Regions from separate parts of the Homo sapiens genome. Here region 2 is linked to region 1. Evidence: fine-mapped expression QTL. A gene starts in region 1. The other region holds a variant in brackets. All regions are shown on one strand. Distances are from middle to middle.

Region 1 (2,910 bases):
ACCGAAAAGGGGGGGCCTGTATGGAAAGGCATAGCAACGAATGTAAAATTTCCCCAATAATACTCTAAAACTGCCCCACAGCTTTTTTAATTTTGAAAATTCAAAACCATTCAATTCAGCTCGCAGATTTTTGTGAGAAATAAGGAGATACTTGCAGCTCAGAAAAAATTATTAACAACTATCTAGAAAGTTACTGCTTTATCCCCCACTGTAAACTATACTACCACGACCCGGGATCCTTGTTCGACTCCTAGCCAAGGGGTTCCCACTGCGTTTCTGTTGGGTTATCCCAAACCTGTGATAGGATAGTAGCGCCCTCCCTGCCTCCGGTCGAATAAACACTACAACGTCTGACACTCGGTGCTGAAAGGAAATCGGGCGCGGTGTCTTGCCCACAGCTTGGGGAGCGGCCCCGGGCGCAATAACTGTCACCGGCGCCGAGATGCGGTTCCGGCGCTTAGGGCGCCGCTAAACTCAGAGCCCGGGAGTCATGGCTGCGGGCGGTGCCGCCCCAGGTAAATCAGTCCAGGAGCAGGGCCCGGGCCTGGCGTACACTCTCGGAAAAATGGGGGCCAGAGCAAACAAGAAGAGCGAAAGCAAGAGGGCTAGGCAGCCAGAGGCGGCAGCAAGACTCAAGACGCCAACGGCGCCGTCTTCCTGGGGCCCCAGGGCCTGCGCCATCCCTGGGCTGCCGGGGCACCGCCTCTCCACGCCCCTCGTCCGGCGGCGGCTGCGACTGCTTCCGAGGTCATGTTCCCAGGACGGGCGCGTCTTCAGGGTGGAAGCCTGGCGCACGTCCGGAGGTGCCGAGGACCCAACCAGCCCAAACTCTGGGGGAAATGACTCCCCTCTGCCCTCGCCCCGCGCTCTGCTACCATTTCCTTACGTCTCTGCTTCGCTCAGCGATGCAAAACGCGCGAGGCGCACGGCAGAGGGCCGAAGCCGCGGTACTCTCCGGGCCAGGCCCGCCCCTCGGCCGCGCCGCGCAGCACGGGATTCCCCGGCCGCTGTCCAGCGCTGGCCGCCTGAGCCAAGGCTGCCGCGGAGCCAGTACAGTCGGGGCCGCTGGCTGGAAGGGCGAGCTTCCTAAGGCGGGGGGAAGCCCGGCGCCGGGGCCGGGTAGGAAAGGCGGGGGAGGGGCTCCGGCCGTCTGGAAGGAATCCACGCGGCTTGAGGCTGTGGGGGAAGTAGGGTGGCGAGCGGTCCTTCTGCGCGCGGGGGGCGGGGGGGGTGGGGTGGTCCATTAGGGTCCCCTGGCGAGGGGGCGGCTTTCTAGTGTGTGAGGGCGACGCCCTAGAAGCTCCCCTTCAAAGTTGGCCCCACGCGCTGAATGTGGAAAGTTGACTGGGACCCAGTAGTTTCCCATCCCAAACCTGCTTTCCGAGAAGGGCTTCAAACCCAAAATGTGAATCCCGCCTCCCCTCTCAGCCAGAACTGTGGACTCGTCCCGGGGAGGGGCGGTGGGTGGGGCGGGGCTGGCGGGAAATTTCGGTTTTGGCGCGCTCCCTGCGGCGACGCTCATCGTGCGCTCTCCTCTTCCCCCGGTGGTCTCCTCGCTCGCCTTCTGGCTCTGCCATGCCCTGCTCTGAAGAGACACCCGCCATTTCACCCAGTAAGCGGGCCCGGCCTGCGGAGGTGGGCGGCATGCAGCTCCGCTTTGCCCGGCTCTCCGAGCACGCCACGGCCCCCACCCGGGGCTCCGCGCGCGCCGCGGGCTACGACCTGTACAGGTGAGCGGGGACCTGCCGGCGAGGAGGCTGGGAAGGGCCGGCCGTCCGCTGCCACAGCTAGAAACAGTCACCGGAGAGATCACAGGAACACACTAGCTATAAATAGGATTTCTGCCTTTTTCGTGTTTAAAATTTTAGCTTTCATCTTTGGCATAAATTAAATAGAGATTTGGGCAAAGACTGCAGAATAAGTAAAATAGCTATACGGTGTCTAGCAAGGCGTTACTTTGCAACGTTTATTGTGCCCTTCCTAAATAGAAGATAGAGAGGAAGGCCCATGGTGGCTTTCGAGTGGCCCGAGGGTGATGCTGTGCTCAATAGAAAAACCAAGGTGAGAGCCTAGATGTGAGCGTGAAAATACCTAAGAAGGATGAACGAAGATGCATCTGCCTTAAAAAGTTATTTTCTATACATTCATCCGGCCCAGGGCGGAATTTGAGAAGGCATCTGAAAACGAAAGGCAGAGCTGCCTGTAATCTACCACACTTTCATCTCTACAGCACGTTTTACCTGTACTAAAAACTTTCCGTATGCTGTTGTATTTAGTCCTCACAACAATCCTTAACTAGATAAGTGTTACTTTTTACACAGGCAGGAGTTTGTGAAGAGCTGAATTGATTTCCCCAGAGGCTTGAAGATGATATAATTTTTTATCCCGAATTTTGGGCTTTTTTTTTTTCATCTGACTACTGTGCCCAGTTCTTAGAACCATTAAGGTAGGAGAAAAGTAATGCTGAGAGGGAAGGAGATTTTATACTAAATCCCAAGCATTGGGATTTATTTTAAAGTATCTCAGATAATTCAAACATGAGAACTATTAGTCTAAGCACAGGAGAAGAGAAAGTAGTGCCTGATGATAGCAACAGAAAAAAAAGGAAAAGGAAAGTAGGTATGGACAATTGTAGCTGGAAAAACTACAGTCTCTTAATTTTGATGAATAAAAGTAGAGTGATATAGTTTGACTAGACCTTTCCAAAGTATATTTTGGAGCACTTTCTTGAGTCCTAGGGGAGTCCTTGATTTAAGATACCTTAAGTAGACTCCTAATAAACACAGGTGACTTTCTGTATACTGAAATTGACATGGAAATAATGGATCAGCAATAAATTAGGGCTTAACTGTTTAAAGAGGGATTTCAGTGAAAGAAGGGGTAGTACTGCTTTACCAGAGTTAATTAAGG
Region 2 (2,910 bases), 24 kb after region 1:
TTCGAATCACACATTGTTCAATACATAGGATAGTAACTCTTTGTGACTATTTTCTAATGTGCCATGGGCTAGAGAGGAAATACGACAAAATACTTTTCTACAAGGTCATTCACTTTGAGTATCAGAAAGAACATTCTACTTAGAATAAAATAAAATCCCAAGTGTGCCCATTTTAAAATCCCTGTGGGATTTATAATGGCTTAACTTTTAGTTGAGAAGAAATTTTTTTTTTTTCTGGCATCTTAGAGAAGCAGACAGAGAAGCAGAGGTGATGCTTTGACAAATAGTAGCATAGATCAGGATAAATGACAGGAAGCTCTCATAAAATATACTTCGATGAGAGCAAAGGCAAATAATGATATAATGCCCTGCAGCTACATGTTTGAAATGGAAATGTTTGGAATGAGGATGTTAGGGAAAATAATATTAGAAAAAGACTAATGCTGTATGAGGTTCCTGTCAGATGAGGAGTGTAGGATAATTGTGTAATAGTGAAATAATATGGTTTAGAAAAAAGAAGGTGCTGTTGACTGAGACTGTTTGATTATCATAGAAGAGATGAAACACTTTTTCATAGTCAGAAAAATCAATATACAGCCCAAGAAGAGAAGTCGTTTGATGATAAGGCAATAAAAACTTCAAAGGGCAAGTTAAAAATGTTTCCTAATTCATTTCAGCCTAAACTGATCCCTGCGCCCGTCTCACACTGTCCGCCAGCTCTTTTGCTGAAGTATGTTACCCTTTCTCCTTGGAATCATTACCCGGTCTCCTTGGAATGGAAACTGTGTCAGACTCCAGGGGTGAGTGGGAGGGAAAATGGTGCTCGCAGAAAGAGAGGAAGTGTTTTTTCAATTTAGAGCTAGAAGTAAGTGCTGACATTGTCTCATGTGTGTTTGGGGACAATGGCACAGGCCAGCGGTAACACATCCACTTTTCTGTGTCCCTTGCTCAGATGTGTTTGGCATGAGGCTGCAAAAGCCACGGCTACTTTATCGCACCCCAAATCTCTGAATCTCTGTTCTCCCTCCTGGGAATGTGAAATATGGACAACATGCAGTTTCTACCTTGTATTGTTAACATAATTATCCAGATGAATTCTCTTATTATTTCCCCACACATATTTTGAAACAAAAAATCCTTTCCCTTACGAAACTTCACTTCCTTTCTTCAGACGCACACCTTCTGTGGGGTTTGAACATTAACCTCAGCTGACTTCAGAGCTGCACTAAGCAAAGCCTGTGTTTTCTAGGCCAAAGTAGACAAAGTGAAGTGAAAGGAGCTGTTGCCAGTTGATGCTGACGAAGGTAGAAGAGAGGCTGGGTACTCACGCTAGGTTCCACCCCCTGCACCGCCCTCTCCCCCAGTACAGCTCATCTGGGAGTTCAGATTCCTCAGCCTTCTAGGTCACCTCTGATGAGCAGGGGCTGTGAGAACTGCTTAGCCTTTTGGCTACTGTAGTGTGGTTGGGAGAGAAAATACGTATTAATATTATTACTTAAAGATAGTTTTATTTGTGTCTATATTGAACATCTCTTGTTTAGAAGGCAAAATAATCATCTGCCTGCCACATTTTACTTCGTAGGCATAGAGTATCAC[C/CT]TTTTTTTTTTTTTTTTGAGACAGAGTCTTGCTCTGTTGCCCAGGCTGGAGTGCAGTGGCACGATTTCGGTTCACTGCAACTTCTGCTTCCTGGGTTCAAGAGATTCTCCTGCCTCAGCCTCCTGAGTAGTTGAGATTACAGGTGTCCGCCACCATGCCTGGCTAATTTTTGTATTTTTAGTAGAGGCGGGGTTTCACCATGTTGGCGAGACTGGTCTCAAATCCCTGGCCTCAAGTGATCCACCCGCCTCGGCCTCCCAAGTGCTGGGATTACAGGCGTGAGCCACCGCGCCCAGCCAGAGTATCATCTTTTAAACTGCTTTGTTCTAATATAATTATCTGTGTCCAAATTTTAGAATTGATTTTCATAACTTAAATTAGAATACAAATAATAAAAGGAAGAGAGCTAACATTTTTTAAGTGCTATATACACCAGGTGCTATTCTAGTTGTGTTCCTTTTACCTGAATGAGGTATTGTAAACCTAGGGGCAGAATTTACTCTTAGGGTGAAAACTGGTCTCTTTATTTTTAGGGAGTCAGCAAGCCATTCTGATGGGCTACTCAAATGTTAGAGTAGGATCTCAGAGCTCAAGGGCTTGTTTGGGCAGGCTGAGAAGGAGAGGCAGAGAGATGTGAGGGACTCAGGAGTTGGTGGCAGGGGTGGTTAGCAGGGGGCAGGAACGCCAAAATATGGTAGGAGGCTAATCAGAGAAAGGACCAGTGAGAAATTTCCTGCATCAAGGAGTGCCAAGACACTTCTTCTAAATTTATATTATGGAAATTTCTAGCATATACAAAAGCAGAATGAGAAGTATAATGAACCCCGTGTAATCATCACTCAGCTTTAACAATGATCCTCTCATAGCTGATTTTGTTTCTTCCGTATCCCTACCTACTTGCCCACTCCCAACCCCCAGTGAATTATTTTGAAACAAATCCCAGACATTGTATCACTTCACAGATTACATTTTAATCTGTTTTCCGAGCTATCTGTACGGTAGCTCCCCTCTTATTACCCAAACTTCAGTCAAATCCACTCCTTTAGTGTCAGTGGGACTTTAGAGGGGGACTAAAAGCAAAAGAGTTTGCATCTGGGCCAAAATGGGTGAAGAAAAAGTAGTGAGAAGCCTGATGCGCAGCCGAGATTAAGAATAAGCAGAGCTCCTGAGAATCCTTGAAAAGATTGGAGGTGAAGGGATGCTAGTTCTTCCATAGAAGTCAGATGGGAGTTTTATATAGTAGTGTGTGTGTCTGTGTGTGTGTGTGTGTGTGTGTGTGTGTGTGTGCTGTTATTAAAATGAAGAGTGACTCTG

Evidence for each region. PIP is the estimated chance that this variant, and not a neighbour inherited with it, causes the effect.
Region 2: its variant is fine-mapped to the expression of DUT-AS1 in whole blood (INTERVAL, PIP above 0.99).

Annotation. Positions count from the first base shown.
Region 1 is chr15:48,330,677-48,333,586 of GRCh38, forward strand. DUT-AS1 (DUT antisense RNA 1) reads right to left here and starts at 1,180. Exons shown (of 3, transcript NR_186809.1): 1 at 887-1,180. DUT (deoxyuridine triphosphatase) reads left to right here and starts at 753. Exons shown (of 7, transcript NM_001025248.2): 1 at 753-1,119; 2 at 1,592-1,730. The coding sequence starts at 840. RefSeq lists enhancers at 261-787, 788-1,312, 1,236-1,530 and silencers at 976-1,185, 1,236-1,530.
Region 2 is chr15:48,354,293-48,357,202 of GRCh38, forward strand. No RefSeq gene overlaps it. Among named protein-coding and RNA genes, the nearest start is that of DUT-AS1, 24 kb to the left of the region's middle. The variant C/CT (reference allele first, on the strand shown) is at 1,597.